Homo sapiens: one gene and its partner. The protein of the gene in region 1 interacts with the protein of each later gene in a biochemical or structural test. Each region holds a gene or a part of one and is shown on either strand. Other genes may lie near its edges. The genes, in order: DCTN6 and PMEPA1.

Region 1 (8,563 bases):
TGGTCCCTCCCACAACATGTGGGAATTATGGGAACTACATTTCAAAATGAGATTTGGGTGGGGACACAGCCAAACCATATCAACTACAGAAGGATGGGTGTGAGGGGCATGGAGTGAAATAAGGAAACTGGTGCCATCTTGTCCCCTTCCTGGGAAGGGATGATTCCTGATGGAGAGGGAAGCTCAAATTCCAGGGCTCAAAATCAGCTGCTGTGACTCTGCTTCACTTATGCCAGAAAAACAACCAAAACCAGCCTGGGTCACATGGTAAAACCCCATCTCTACAAAAAATACAAAAATTAGCTGGGTATGGTGGCTTACACCTGTACTCCCAGCTACTTGGGGGGCTGAGGCGGGAGGATCGCTTGAGCCCAGGAGGTAGAGGTTGCAGTGAGCTGAGATTGCACCACTGCACTCCAGCCTGGGTGATGGAGTGAAACCCTGTCTCAAAAAAAAAAAAAAAAGAAAACTAATCAAAAGTCTGGAGCTAGGGAGCAAGGTCAAAGCCTCTAGGTTTCTGATCTGGAAAACTAATGGCACCATCTGAGAATAGCCTATGGGAGGAGGGGTAGATTTTAGAGAAAAAAGTCATTTGGCTAAATTTTAGATAAACTCAGTCTGAGGTATCTATGGAATGGTCACCAGATATATCCAATAAGCGACTGAAAATACAGATTCTGAAGCTCATAAGAGAGTTCTAAAAATACAGCTCTGAGAGTCAGAAGGGTAAAGATTCTTTCATTAACATGTCTCTCCATCATTTCTATGCCAGAATCTTCCCCCCAAGTATTCCCTAATATACATGCAAAGTAAGATGAAAACTATTTTTAAGATTGTACCAACTTCCCTACTGGTGTGATGAACTAAAAAAAAAAGAAGACATACACAAATTTTTCTTCCACAAATTAGGGTGGACAAACCTTCACACCGCCATGAATTTTTAAAGCTCTAAGTAAACAAAAAAACATGTATCAAATAGAAAAAACTAATAATCCCTGAGTCTATCTTCAAGAAATGGTTTTGAGAATAGACACAGCTCCAGCTGTTTCCATCATTTTGTTAGGCTCTGACTTTTTATAAGGCGTAAGTCAATGAAATCCTACCAATGGTCCTTCTGGGTGATACAGCCTGTCAAGAGTCAATCTGGGCCAGGTGCAGTGGCTCACGCCTGTAATCCCACCACTTTGGGAGGCCGAGGTGGGCAGATTCCTTGAGGTCAGGAGTTCGAGATCAGCCTGGCCAACATGGTGAAACCCCATCTCTACTAAAAATACAAAAATTAGCCAGGTGTGGTGGTGGGTGCCTGTAGTCCCAGCTACTCTGGAGACTGAGGCAGGATGATCGCTTGAACCCAGGAGGCAAAGGTTGCAGTGAGCAGAGATTGTGCCACTGCACTCCAGCCTAGGCAACAGAGTGAGACTCCGTCTCAAAAAAAAAAAAAAAAAAAAAGGAACCAGGCATGGTGCAAAGCTTTCACTGCACTCCAGCCTGAGCGACTCTGTCTCACAAAAAAAAAAAAAAAAAAAGTCAATCTACTGAAATAACAGAAAATATGTAGCCCTCCTGCTGTATTGAAGAAGAAAGATTTTAGTAAGATTAGAAGAAAATCACCTGGTCTAACCCTCTCATATTATAGAAGAAAAAACTGAAATTCAGAGACTAGAAATTTCTTGGAGCAGAGTTCATTCCTGGGGCATCACTGTCCTGAAATCAGTCATCTGTCTTCTAGTTGAAAGTTTTCTGGAAACATCCTGTCACTCCAGATGTTTTTCCATGATAAATGAGCGACACTGTCCTTGAATGTATCACCAGCTGTAAATGTCATTTCTCTGATACTTTTCATTTAAAGTGGGTTTTTTTTGTTAAAATATGCAATTTTATTAAGCCCTGGTCAAATACATTAGCCTCTATAAAATGTCTCTTGTTTTAGACCTTATTTCTCATTGCAATTTTCCATTTCCTCAGCTTCCTTCTCATTATGAAAAGAGCATTATCTAACATTGAACTTGTCCTGGGCAACTGAGAGTAGGAGAGACTCACAAATGCCCCCTGCCTTCAGTTTTACGCCCAAGGGAGAGATCCCAGGTAATGCTTGCGTCACAATCAGCACACTTCTCAGTGGGGCAGGCCACTAGGCCAACTAAAACGTGGTCCCGATATCTCTGCAAGGACCCCTTGTATCTCGGAGTGGTGGGAGCAGAGAGGTGAGCCGGCAGATGGGAGGGCAAGACTTAACCTCAGATCTGTAAAAGTAACAAGTCAACAATACCTTAATCTTCACTGTAAGCTACTATCTACTGCTATCTACTGCACATAATATTTATAGTACATCTGTTCCTCTTTAGCTTATGAAAAAAGATTACAGAGTATCTACTTAAATGGAAGAAAAATCTACATTTTAATTTATGGCACCAGAAACAATGTCAGTTTTCTTTGTCAAAAATAGTCAGCAGAGGGAGCTCAACACTGCTGCTGTTCGAAATGGCTTTACTTATGCACTTGTCTCATCCCAGCCACCAACAGCCACCAACAGCCCCCAGCAATGAAGACTACCGGAGAAGAAGCCAAACTTCCTGTCCCCACATGTTTACAAAGGAGCTTGTCCACTCCACGCCTGGCAAAAAATGTCACAGTTCTAAGCTTATACACTATTGGTGGGAATATAAATTAGTTCATCTATTGAAAATAGTATGGTGATTTCTCAAAGGACTAAACACAAGTACCATTGGACCCAGCAATCCATATAGAGCTACCAATCCAAACGGAACTACCATTCGACCCAGGATCTACTCAAAGGAAACCATTGTATTAAAAAGACAACTGCACTCCTATGACTATCACTGTACTATTCACAATAGCAAAGTATGGAATCAACCTAAGTGTTCATCAACGGATGACTGGATAAAGGAAATGTGGTGTATCTATACGATGGAATACTACAGAGCCATCAAAAAGAAAGGAAACATGTCTTTTGCAACAACATGGATGGAACTGGAGGCCATTACCTTACGCGATAACTCAGAAATAAAATCAAATGCACATGTTCTCACTTTTAAGTGGGAGCTAAAATGAGTACACATAAACATAAAGAGGGAAATAACAGACACTGGGGACTCTAAAAGCAGCGAGGGTAGGAGGGGTTTGAGGGCTGAAAAATTACCCATCTGATACAATGTTCACTATTTGGGTGGTAAGTACACTAGAAGCCAACTTCACCATTACGCAATTTATCTATGCAACAAATCTGCGCAAGTACTCCTTGCATCTATATAATGTGTGTGTGTGTGTGTCACAGTTCAAGTCCAGGCGCGGCCCCCCTTTTGACAGCGACCGTAAATCCCTTTACACACCCCACCCTCCAGAGACAGGAAGGGCCTGGGGTGCGGCCAGCACTGGCGTGGGGGTCTCGCAACATGCAGCAGAGAATCCAGCGCCAAGCCGTGGGGTACAGCGGCGCCAAGCACCGCCGATTATGCGGGAGAAGGGAGCCGGCCTTCCCCAGGAAAAAGCTGACGTCACCCTCCCCTCACAGCCCCCCCCGCCCTCCCGGCCGGGAGACCCCCTCTGCGCAGGCGCATGTGGGGAGGGACGGCCAGACAGGAACAAAAACCTTCCAGGCAGCGACTCCGCGTCCCTTCTCAACCCTCCCCGCCCCCACTCCGTCGCCCCCTCCCTCAGTGGACGCCAGGTCTGGGCTTCAGGTACCTTCGGCCCGAATGCCCAGGATGAGACACCTTCTGAGTCGCCACCATTGGCGACCAGGAACAGGTTCCACCCCTACGGAAAGCTGAGAAAAGGCTTTTCTCAAGCAGCAAACCCACCTCTTTTGAGTCTTCTCCGCCATGGTACGGCCCCAATTGGAACGTAGATCGACACCACCGCCTGGGTAGAGCGATAATTCCACATGCGATTGGAGAGCCTGGCAGGGTTGGGGGAGGGGCGGAGCCGGGGTGGGGCGGGGACCCGGAAGCTTGCGACTCTTGTTTGCGTCGCGTCTGGGCGCACAGGACTGTACTTTTGGTAGCGGTGCGGGGCCGCCCGCGGACTTTAGCCCTGCATAGAGATGGGTAGACCCTAATTTGGAACAGCCATTGACTGGGCACAGGCCAGCACTTTGGGAGGCCGAGAGGCCGAGGCAGGAGGATCGCTTGAGGCCAGGAGTGCCAGACTGCGAGACTAGCCTGGGTAACATAGTGAGACCCTCTCTTCAAAAAAAAAAAAAAAAAAAAAAAAAAAAAGCCTGTCACGGTGGCCTGCGCCTGTACCCCAGCTACTCGAGAGGATCGCCTGAGCCCAGTGAAGCTGCAGCGAGCTGTGAGGATGCCACCGCACTCCGGCCTGGGCTAAAAAGCTAGATCGTGTCTCTGATAAAAGAATAAAAGCTGTTTATTGCAATCCAGTCCGCGTCATTATGCCCTCATTTTACCCACTCGCGTAGGCGTAATTACACCCTAAAGGTATTTCTCTGACCTCGCCGATGTCCTTTTCAGCCTGTCTTTCTCTACTCATTAGGGCTCCTTCTGGCCCTTTTCTCGCTCTATATGAGTGCATCCTTCCTATAGGTTAAGTGCCCTCTACCTGTTTGCTCTCTAATGAATGTCTCTGGTTCTGCCCTCTGTGCCGATCTTCACACCTGACATTCGGTTGACTAATTGACATCTCCGCTCAGAGTCGTATCGAACCTAAAACTTACAGAACATGACTTTCGATTAACACTGCCGTCCTCCCTGCAACCTGCTGCTTTTTTGATCCACACCATTTGCCTAGCTGCTCAAGCCAGACACTCAAGAGTCACCCTGGCACTCCTCACCCCTACATCTGTAATAGATCTGCAAGTTCTGCTTGTCCTACCTCGGGTCTCATGCTTACACTTTTGTCTACCGGACCATCTCTCTAATCTCAGCCGATGTGTCTCTCCCAGTTGTTCACTCATTCTGTACTTGGCCTCTGAAATCACACCTCCTCATCTCCCACCCCCAACCCTGATCCAAGTAGTTCTCTTGTAGTCAAAATCATCCTTTAAAAGACAAATTGAGGCCAGGCGCGTGGCTCAAACCGGTAATCCCAGCACTTTGGGGGGCCGAGATGGGAGGATCGCTTGAGGCCAGGAGTTGGAGACCAGCCTGGTCAACACAGCATGATCCCGTCTCTATATATTTTTTCTATAATGTATTTTTTTAATGGAAAAAAATTAAAAATAAGAGCCAAATTCAGTTATTTCCCCTTCCTCTTAAAATCTAAAATCCAAACTGCTTTCCATAACCTATCTCTGAGCTACATCCAGCCCCTGCCTACTTCTCTCTTTCTCTTTCTATGTGTTCGATCACACCCTCATTCTCCAAAAAAGCAAAGCTGACTCTCCACCCCCAACCGCTTCCACTTGCCCCCACCCTAACACCTTCTGACCCTTTATGTCTCGGATGTCACATACTCAGTTTCCAACCAGAGAAACAGAACTAGTAGTAGATGGATATCAAAAGGCTTATTGTAAGGAATTGGCTTACATGATTGTGGAGCCCCAGCTAAGCAAGTCCAAAATCTGTACACTAAGCTGGAACTCTCATGCAAGGGGTGAGGCTGTTGTTCACAGGAGGAATTTCTTCAGGGAAGCCCATCTCAGCTCTTATGGCCTTCAACTGATTGAATCAGGCCCACCCAGATTAGCTAGGATAATCTCTCTTCCTTAAAGTGAACTGATGATGGGCTTTAATCACATCCACAAAAATACCTTTACAGCAGCATCTAGATTAGTGTTTGACTAATGACTTGGGAATGTAGCCTAACCAAGTTGACACAAAAAACTGACCATCACACTCAGGGAAACCCTCCTTGACTGTCTTAGTTCTTTCTGGCTGCTATAACAAAATACAGTTGGCCCTTTGTATCTGTGGGTTTGACATCTGTGACTGGTTGACAGCAACCCACGTTGGATCAAAAATTTGGGGGAAAAAATTACGCAAGTTTCCAAAAAGCAAAACTTGAATTTGCTGCATGCCAAGTGCTACATTGAAGCCACATGAATGAAGTGATATGTAGGAATTGTATTAGATATTCTGAATAATATAAAGATGATTGAAAGGATATGGGAGGATATGCATCAGTTAGTTATATGCAAATACTACACCATTTTATATCAGGGGCTTGAGCATCTGCAGATTTTGGCATCAGGGTGTCCAGGAACCAGTTCCCCAAGCATACTGAGGGACAGTTATACCTTAGACTGGGTATAGTAGTCCTTTCTTATCCTCGGGGGATACATTCCAAGACCTCTAGTGGATGCCTGAAACCACAGATAATACTGAACCCTCTATATACTATGCACACATTTCCTTTTCCTCATTAACAGTTTCATGGGTAAAAGATTTATTCTTACCATAGATCTTAGCAACCTCAGCATATAGTTTTTTTTCTTTCCTTTTGAAATCAAGAAGTTTTCACATTTTCACTTAAAGCATTTTACAGTTTCTCTTTGGCAGATCCAAATCACCTGCATCGCTACTTTTGTGCTTTGGGGCCATTATGAAGTAAAATAAGAGTGACTTGAACACAAGTACTCTGATACTGCAACAATGTATCTGATAACTGAGAAAGCTTTAATGGGCAGGTAGTACCAACAGTGTGGATACAAAGGGATGATTCATGTTCTTGCCTAGAGAGAGCAGCATGGTACGAGAGTTCATCATGCTACTCAAAATGGTGTGCAATTTAAAACTCACAAATTGTTTATTTCTGGAATTTTCTATTTAATATTTTTGGACTGATGTTGACTACAGGTTACTGAAACCACAGAAGATGAAACCATGGATAAGTGCGACTACTGTTATTTATAAACAAAGACATTTATTGCTCACAGTCCTAGAGGCTGGGGAGTCCAAGATCAAAGCGCTGGACATTCTGTGTCTGATGAGAGCCCTCATCACCTAATCACCTCCCAAATGTCCCACCTCTTAATTGCCAAGTAGTCAATAAAATATCAGATGTGAGGCTCGGCAGAGAGGACAGAACCTTGAAGGTATTATTTCAACATATGAATTCTGGAGGGACAAAAACATTCAGACCATAGCACCATCTAATCAAAAATAGGCTACCCTTCCTATTCTAATTATTTTCTCTGTGGGGTAAGGATTGCACTCATCACCAGCTATACTTACTTATCTTACCATTTCCTCCAAAGACTTAAGTTCCATGAAGTTAGAGCCATGTGAGTTTTGTTCCCACTCTTTACTCAGCACCAACCACAGTGCCTGGTGCATGGTTGATATTCCTCTAAACTTGTTGAATAAGTATATGAATGAATTTAGAGTGTTTTGTCACTGCCAACCATGTAAACACCTATCCATTTTCAAGCAATGTGTATTTATATTAATTTGAAAGACTTCTATGGCATACTTATAAAGGATCATTTTATCAGTATTAGGTACAGTGTCTAGGGCCTATAGGCTTTTTGGGGATCAACGAACTGTTTGAAACCTGAAAATAAAATGTACTGATTCCAGAATGTAAACCGTACAGGTAGGAATTAATTAATGCTAAGGCCAGGCACAGTGGCTCACGCCTGTAACCCCAGTTCTTTGGGAAGCTGAGGCAGGTGGATTGTTTGAGTTAGGAGTTCGAGACTAGCCTGGGCAACATGGCAAAACTCTGTCTCTACAAAAAATACAAAAATTAGCGAGGCATGGTGGCACGTGCCTGTAGCCCCAGCTACTTGGGGCCTGAGGTGGGAGGATCACTTGAGTCCGGGAGGTCAAAGTTGCAATGAGCCAAGATCATGCCAGTGCACTCCAGCCTGGGCAACAGAGCAAGAGCCTGTCTCGATAATAAAATAAATAAATGCACACATACTTTTTTTTTTTTTTTGAGATGGAGTTTCACTCTTGTTGCCCAGGCTGGAGTGCAATGGCGTGATCTCGGCTCACTGCAACCTCCACCTCCTGGATTCAGGTGATTCTCCTGCCTCAGCCTTCTGAGTAGCTGGAATTATAGGCACCTGCCACCATGCCTGGCCTTTTTTTTTTTTTTTTTTTTTTTTTTTTTTGGATTTTTATTAGAGACAGAGTTTCACCATGTTGGCCAGGCTGGTCTTGAACTCTTGACCTCAGGTGATCCACCTGCCTCTGCCTCCCAAAGTGCTGGGATTACAGGCATGAGTCACTGTGTCCAAACCCACACGTACATACTTAATTCAATGTCTACAAAGCAACTTTTTTCTTAACTAATCAACTGCAATTCAACTCTTCTATACCTAGAAATTATATTTGATGTGGGATTTGGTTTCATTCAATATGTTTAATATGATGTTATCTTATTTAGTTCCTTAGGGAGCCCTCTTCTTCCCTGTTGGGAATAGGCCCCCAAAATCTGGTCATAAACTGGCCCCAAAACTGGCCATAAACAAAATATCTGCAACACTGTGACATGTTCGTGATGGCCATGACGCCCACGCTGGAAGATTGTGGGTTTACCAGAATGAGGGCAAGGAACACCTGGCCCACCCAGAGCAGAAAACCCCTTAAAGGTGTTCTTAAACCACAAACAATAGCATGAGCGATCTGTGCCTTAAGGA
Region 2 (8,138 bases), on another chromosome or scaffold:
ATCACCCTCCCCAAGGGAAAAATTACGAAGAAAAATGGCAGGAGCCCCCGGGCCCTCCAAGTGATGAGCACAGCCTTGATGCCCAGAATGAAATGAGAGCGAGATGTTTCTCCTTCCCAGCGGCTTGTGTTGCCACGGCGGGCCCTTGGGGGAGAGAAAGGTGCCTCCCCGCAAGGGCCTCAGAGTCAAGTTCAAAACATGATGTGTGTATGAAGCGGCACCAATATAAACATGGGATCCAGCGCATGTTAGCCCCTGAGGGGCCTTGGGTCCAGCCACCATCCTGGGTGACCTTTGGGACTGACTTGAGCTCAAATCTCCCACCTTGGGGACAGAAGCCAGTCAGGGAACACCTGGCTAAGCAGGCTTGTACTCTGCAGCCCAGCAAACCTCAGCATTTCCAGGGACCATCAGGGGAACGAGGGATGCTTTTTGTCCCCAGAGGAGTGTCAGTAATTGTGACAATGGTGACAGTTGAGTGTGCTACGTTCTGTCCCGTTCTGAGCTCTCGCATCCATTATTTCACCCCTGCCCCGGTTGGTTCTTTTTTTTTTTTTTTTTTGACAGATGAGGTAACTTCCTCTCAAGGAGGTAGATGCGCACAGCATCACACAGACAATGGATGCACGAGGACTGGACCAGAACATCAGAACCACATCCTCAGATTCCCGGGGCAGGGGGCGGGCGGACTAACGCCGTGGGCGAGCTAGGAAAATTTAGCAGGAGAATGAAACCCTTCCCCCTTTTGAGTTCCTATATGGCGGCTCTGGGCTCAAGTCTCAACCTTGCTCCTAGTTGCATCTTCTAGGGCTACTTCTCCCTAAGCCTCAGTTTCTTCATCTGCAAAATGGGCATGGTGATGTTACCTAAATTGGGGAGGCTCAGCTCAGTGGCCCCGGGTCATGTGTTAGAATCATGACAATACTTACAGTGACTACAGTGAGTTTGGGTGTGCCCTCTCCTGCTCTGTCCCCTGTGGCCTATGACTGCTTGGCAATGTGTCCTGTGGTCACAGCAGAGTTGAGCCTAGGTCAGGGACAGTGGTAGGACCCACCCCTGCAGGTGTCATACTGGGCATTTGATCTGGGATGTCTTTGTCCATGCCTTGGTAAAGGGGCAGTCTGTCAGATTAGGGAAACTGAGGCAGGATTGGTGTGGCTCCATATCTGCCAGTAGTCACTAAGTGACCTGGGGCCCAACTCTTGGCCAGAAGTCCTGAAGCCGCCTGCCCTGCAGATGCCTTGGGTGTGGCCTGCTTGGCCCTTTTAAAACTCTTAAATGAGGTTCCAGCCTTAAAGGACCACAGCTTCACAGCCGGCTCCAGGGTCCTCTGGAGAGAGGGAGGGATGCGGCCGCGCTGGGCCTTCTCTCCTTCCGCCTCGCGTTGGCAGTCCTGCTGGGGTTCCTTCCCTTGCCCGCGAGGCATCTGATCCTGAGAGTCCGGCTCTCAAGCTGCGACTGGGAATGGGCCCCAGCAGCCTCCCTGCGCTCCTCGGAACAAATGCAGGCACGAAGAGGATTCTGCGAGCTGCCGCGGGTGGAGAGCCGTGTTTATATTGGTGCCGCTTCATACACACATCATGTTTTGAACTTGACTCCAAGGCCTTTGCGGGGAGGCACCTTTCTCTCCCCCAAGGGGTCTTTGCTGGTGGATTCACGGTGCCTGCCCAGAGGGATGTGTGGGACTTAGTGTGGGGAGGGAGCCCATGCTTGATGAACTCGGCCTGAGTGGGCCCTGATCAGTGCGTCGTAGAGGCCCGCATGCTGAGTCTCAGGCATCCCTGGGGTGGTGTGGGGTGGGGACCGACAGTGTCAGGGCGTGGCTGTCCCAGGCCAGGTGAGTCCCGGGACCAGGCCTGTGGAGAGGGTGGCTGCCCACAGCCCTGCTCCCGTGATGCCAGGTGGGAACACGGCTGGGGCCAGGGACGGTCGGTGCGCGTGCCCTTGGGTCTCTGGTTTGCGACCGACCTCGCCAGCAGGCACTGCATGGTCCACTCCCCAGAGAATGCATTCCTGTCCCCTAAAGCTGAGCGTCTCCTGGAAGCAGCACCATGGGTGTGAAAGTGCGTGGAAGGTGCCTCCTCACCCCATGCCCAAGGGTGGTCTTCGTTGGACCTGTTTGTGGGCCCCAATGCTGCTGTGCCTGACCAGCCTTCCTCCCGCACAGCATCCGCGCCGGTGGGGCTTGACTGGAGCTGGATGGAGATTTCGGGGCCTCCTTGGCCCAGGGTGTTGCCTTCCTGATGGGTGGGGGTGACCCGGCTGCTGGCTGGAGCACCTCTCTTGCCCCCCTCAACACCTCCAGGTCTGGGCATGTCCAGGGGCATCCAGGAGGGTCTGGGTTCCGGCCTCTGCTCACCTATACCCTCTGCCTGTGCTCCACTCTGCCCCGCACTCCGTGCCCTGCACCAAAAGCCTCAGTGCCCACCTTACAGGGAGCCCTCCAGGGTCTTCCATTAGATGCTCCCTCTGCGATTCCAGAGCAGGTCATGTCTCTTTGAGGGTGGATGGGTTTGGGCCACCCTTGTTCTGGTGGAGCCAGGATGGAATTGAGCATCCCGTGTCTGGGTCCACCTCCAGGGAGCACTACATGCTGAGCACATGTCCCCCGCACATCCTGCTGCCCACTGTCCCCCTGCTGCCCACCGTCCCCCCGCTGACACAGGGAGACTGCGATGGACTCAGAGAGGGCCCCCAAGAGCCAGGCTGGGACCCGGGCCCTCTGAGAGAGCCACTGTGCTTCCCTGCCACCACCCTGCTCCTCTCCAGGGTGCTCCTGAGCCGTAGTCTCGGCAACCCTTGCAAATCTCCATCTCCCTAAGCCTGGACCCAGGCCCTTGGCTCACCAAGTCTAGCCAGCAGTCAGTTGTAGTTTCTCTTTTCTAGAGAGTTTTTCTCTCTCCTCTCCCATGTGAATTTTCCTGGGCCAGTGACCCAATGGGAGTTGGTGGCCCAGGGACCAGGGTGACGCTCTTATGCGCTACTGAGCCCGGTGCTCATTTCTGGGAGCGTTTTTCTCACTCTGTGGATACAGACGTCCAAAAGTCAGATCCCCCTGCCCCTGGGGCCGAGCCTGGCGGGGCCAGGAGAGCCGTGAGGGTTTGTCCACACCCATTCAGTCTGCAGGGGCCTCCTCCATTGCCCCTGCATCCCACCGGCCCTGCAGCCCCAGCTACCGTCTCACTGCTGTCTGGGTCCTGCGGGCTGCCAGGGCCCGGGACAGGGACAAAAACAGCCACACACCTCCCTCCCTCCAGGGCTGATGTGGGCTGGGCCCCTGGAGACAGCTGGGGAAGGGGGAACTGGGGTGAAGAGTGCACAGGGTTGGGGGGCAGGGAATTGCAGGCCCCGGGGGTGGGGGGGCGTGGGTGTTACACAAAGCCAGCCCTGTGTGTACCCTGAATGCGGCTTTATCCTGAGTGCTAACAGACGGACCTGGGCCCTACAGAATCAGGCCAGGCTGCCCCGGCCCTGGACCTGCCTGTCTGGGGAGACAGGAGGTGTGGCCACAGCGACCTGGGTCTGAAGCCTGATCTCTCCTGGCCAGGAACATGCGGGTGTCCCACAGGCGGCCCAGGGCTTGGGGCCTGAGTTCCCAGCAGGCAGGGCCGAAGCCTTCTCGGGGCTTGGGAAAGCCCCACCAAGCCTAGTGGGAGGACGCGCCAGCTCTAGGGTCTTGGACTTCTCGAGGCAATCACTTTTCCCTCTGAGCCCGTGTCTCCTCACCCGTGAAATGGGGATGATAATAAAAACGCCCGTTCTTAGGTGTGCTCAGCCCACAGCATGACCGACTGGATTGGATCATTCTTTGTCATGGGGGACAGTCCTGTCGGTGCAGGACGGTTACCACAGCCCCTGGCCTCCACCCACTCCATGCCAGGAGTACCCCCCAGTTGTGACAACCAAAAATGGCTCCAGACATCGCCACATGTTCCCTGGGTGCAGACGTGGCCCCAGCTGAGAAACACTGGCTCATTAGCAGTGTAGACAATGGCGCGCTGAGCCCTGGGTGCAGATGCGGCCCCAGCTGAGAAACACGGGCTCAGTAGCAGTGTAGACAGTGGCACGCTGAGCCCTGGGTGCAGACGCGGCCCCAGCTGAGAAACACTGGCTCAGTAGCAGTGTAGACAATGGCGCGCTGAGGGTGGCACAGATGCATAAAGTGCCCGAGACGGGGAAGTTCTGGAAAACCTGTTGGGGAAGAAGGAGTGGCAGTGGACACAGGTGTGGGAGTGCTTCTGTGTGGAGAGGCGTCTGCCACTTCACAGACAGTGACATTCCCACCTAGGATGGGCTGCTTTCCTGCCTTGGGGAGAGCGAGGCTGGTGGCAGGAGATGGCTGGGCCCCCCGGGTTTGGAGTGTGCTTGCCTGGGCTGTCTGATGGCCCGAGCGCCTGGCATCGGCTCTGCACGGCCTGTTTTTTCTCCAGTTGCCACCTGACACCTGCCCACCCCGATCCCCCTCCCCCGGCTTTGGTTCCTCGGTCCTGGGAGGAGGAGGAACTGAGTCAGTGGCACTGGGCTTGAACTGGGGCCCCCAGGGAGCCTGGCTAATTGCTTGTTAGTGCCAGGGAGCCCTGGGGAGTCCTCCTTGCCCCCATGCCAGCCGGGGTCTGGGGAGTCACATTCCTGCACACCTTGGGCAGGGTGTCCTGGGCAGGGCGAAGCTGGAGGAGCTTTGGCCCCGGACGCTGCCGGCTGGTGCCCACTCTGCCGTGTCAACTCCAAGGGACCCGGCGTCTTGCCCATTGCTGGGGGCTCTGCTGGCACCGTGCTCGGCCAGCTGCCGAGGCCGCTTCGGCACAGACCCGCTTGAGTCAGCAGAAACTGCCCGGCTCAGGCAGGATCAAAATAACCTTCTTCCTATTCCAGCACTTGAGGGTTTTTCCGCCTTCTAGGGGAAAAACAAATCAAAAACCAAAAAAGAAAAAACAAAAAAACCCAACCTTAGAAAATGCGAATGGCAACATCCGCAGCCATCTGGAATGTGGGTTTTCTGAGGCCTTTTCACCAAGAGGAGGGTCCTGACACCCCCGTCCTGTTGAGCGTGGCGTGTGTTTGTGAGTCCTGGGATGGATGTGTGTGTGTGGGCACGTGTGGTGCGCTGTGTCTGTGTGTGTTTGTGTCTGTTGGGAAGTGTGTGTTGGGATGTTGACTTGGGTGTGGGACTGTTGAGGGGTGTGTGTTGGGGTGTTGATATGTGTGTAGGAGTGTTGGGTCGTGTGTTGGTGTTGACGTGTGTGTAGGAGTGTTGGAGTATGTAGTGTTGTTGACGTGTGTGTAGGAGTGTTGGGGTGTTGTGTGTGGAGGAGTGTTGGGGTGTTGTGTGTGTAGGAGTGTTAGGGGTACGTGTTGGGGTGTTATTTGTGTAGGAGTGTTGGGTCATGTGTTGGTGTTGATGTGTGTGTAGGAGTGTTGGAGTATGTAGTGTTGGGGTGTTGTGTGTGTAGGAGTGTTAGGGGTACGTGTTGGGGTGTTATTTGTGTAGGAGTGTTGGGTCATGTGTTGGTGTTGACGTGTGTGTAGGAGTGTTGGAGTATGTAGCGTTGTTGACGTGTGTGTAGGAGTGTTGGGGTGTTGTGTGTGTAGGAGTGTTGGGGTGTTTTGTGTGTAGGAGTGTTAGGGGTACGTGTTGGGGTGTTATTTGTGTAGGAGTGTTGGGTGTGTGTTGGTGTTGACGTGTACTTAGGAGCGTTGTGTGTGTAGGAGTGTTGGGGCATTTGTGTTGGTGTTGTGTGTGTAGGAGTGTTGGTGTGTTGACATATGTGTAGGAGTGTCAGGTGTGCATAGGTTTGTGTACACACGTTCACATGTAGCTCCTCTTTGTTTAATTCCACAAAGCTTCACTCCCAAACTCAGTGCCAACTTCCTCTCTCCGCACTCAGGGGTCCCCTTCTCCTCCCAACTGCTCCCTCCCTGGGCCCCTAAGAAGGGTCTGTGACCGTCTGCCCGAGCCTTTGCCCAGCGACAGGAGCCAGTGCGCAGGGCTCCCTTTCTGCCAGTCAGCTCACGCTGTGCATCTGCAGAACGGCTCCAGGAGGCTCTGAGAGCAGAGAGCAGGGCCTTCCTCCTGCCTGTCCCGTTACCTCCTTCCGGTCAGTCCCTACAGAGGGGGTGTCTGGGTCCCAGGACACCTTTGAGGTGCTCTCCCAGCCAGCAGTACCCCCTCCTCCGCCGTGAGAGCAGCTTCCCTGCACGTACCCCAGCCCCAGGCATCGCCTGTGACCTTGCCGGGAGAGTGGCGGGGGCTTTCCTGAGTCTGGGTTGCACTCTCGTCCCCCTAGGTGGGTGAAAAAGCTCAAAAGGGCTGAGCCCTGAGCACAGCGACCTGCAGGTGTCCAGGGTCTCACGTGTCCCTCTTTGTCTCCACAGCGGAGCTGGAGTTTGTTCAGATCATCATCATCGTGGTGGTGATGATGGTGATGGTGGTGGTGATCACGTGCCTGCTGAGCCACTACAAGCTGTCTGCACGGTCCTTCATCAGCCGGCACAGCCAGGGGCGGAGGAGAGAAGATGCCCTGTCCTCAGTAAGTGCCCCGCCATCCCATCTGTGGCCTGAGGGTGCGGCAGTGGGACGCCCCTTGTAAAAACTCAGACGGGATCCAATGGCAGCGTTTGCAGGAAACAGATTCAGGGCAGGAAGACAGGGGCTGGGGAGCCCACCTGACAGCAGCTTCCTCCCCTGAAATGGGAGGAAAGCACCCGCCAGGCGGGCCTCAGAGATGCTGGAGGAACGTGGGGAATGAAGAGCTGGGCTGGGAAGAGGCTTCGTGATCCACTCACGCACTCAGCTGACTCTCGAGCAGCCTCGGGTCGCAGGCTCTGTGCAGGGCCTGGGGAGAGGGCAGCACACAGGTCCTTGCTGTCATGGAGCTGACGTTCCAGGAGGGAGATGAGACGCCCAGTGGTGATAGCGCCATGCAGGAGATGCGACCACTGGGACCTGGGGGAGCCTCTGCGAGGAACCCTCGGCTAGGGAGGCAGGGCTGGGCTCACAAGCAGCGCAAGCTGACCCCCGTCTTGACCCACATCTCTCGAGGCTGAGTGGAGACAGACCTAGAGAGATGAGGCTGAAAGCAGGGAGGCACCTGGGGCAGGCAGCACAGGAAGGCATTCTGGGTCCACACAGAGGCCTGACACAACAGGATGGTGGAGACGAGGGGCCGGCATTTGGCTCTTACCCACCGGGGTAGTGGTGGGAAAGGTGCCTGCAGTCCTGCAGCCCTGACCCAGACGGAAGGGAGGTGGCGGCCCTGCCCTCGTGCCCGTGCTATGCTGACATCTGGTCATGTGGTCACAATGCCTTGGAGAGCCATAGAGGCAACAGGACACCAGGTCCCGGGGCCTAAGTTTAATCCCATCTCCACCAGTACTGGCCACGTGCCCTCAGACCTGTCCCTGATCTACAAAATGGGGCTTCAGATCCCCCATTTGTAAAATGGGCTGACAGTCACATCCACCTCCCCAGAGATTCAGGGCTTTAGCACAGAGCACGGGTCTGGTCATTACTGGCTATAAAAGCACTTCCATCCATCCATCCATCCACCTGACAGATCTCTACCCAGCACACACACGGGGTATGCAAAATTCCCCCTGCGTTTGGGAAGTGGCTGTGAGCCAGTCCCAGGGGGTGCTGCTGGTGAGTTGGATGGGCGCAGACAGGAGCAGGTGCACGGATGAAGGAAGCCGAGGGCCGTGGCCAGGAAGTTGGGGCGAGCTGCTCTTGAGGCCGTGCTGTGCAGGACCAGGTGAAGTGGGCGCGGGAGTGTGAGGAGGACAGAGCCCTGCAGGAGGGACCCCGCTCTCCATTACAGTCCTGGGTGTTGATCTCTCAGAGTTGTGAGCATTGGTGGGTGTTCTGGAAACCCCAAGAATTTCCCTTTCGAATCTCCACAAAGTCAGGGGCAAACAGGGCAGATCTGGGTCGGTGGGAACTTGCCCGCCTCTGACGGTGAACTCCCGGCTCCATGTCGGCCGCCTGAAGCCCGGCTGTTCGGTATCCTTCAGCAGGTGGACCAAAGGGCGGCACAGAGTTAATCTCTTAATGGCTTCCATCTCTGCACCCAGGATGTGTAACTCAACCACGTGGGGCAGGAAGCGGCTGTTTAAAGAGCAGGCTGGGAACTGTGGGGAGGAGG

Evidence for each region.
Region 2: the proteins of DCTN6 (region 1) and PMEPA1 form a complex in vitro, tested with the Homo sapiens proteins (one study listed by BioGRID).

Annotation. Positions count from the first base shown.
Region 1 is NC_000008.11:30,151,665-30,160,227, reverse strand, and holds the start of DCTN6 (dynactin subunit 6), read right to left. Parts: upstream 3,860-8,563; 5' UTR 3,845-3,859; coding exon 3,822-3,844; exon of another isoform or gene 3,568-3,821; intron 3,057-3,567; exon of another isoform or gene 2,346-3,056; intron 2,205-2,345; exon of another isoform or gene 2,118-2,204; intron 1-2,117. UniProt on the Homo sapiens protein: Part of the dynactin complex that activates the molecular motor dynein for ultra-processive transport along microtubules.
Region 2 is NC_000020.11:57,657,932-57,666,069, reverse strand, and holds part of PMEPA1 (protein TMEPAI), read left to right. Parts: intron 1-6,372; coding exon 6,373-6,527; intron 6,528-8,138. UniProt on the Homo sapiens protein: Functions as a negative regulator of TGF-beta signaling and thereby probably plays a role in cell proliferation, differentiation, apoptosis, motility, extracellular matrix production and immunosuppression.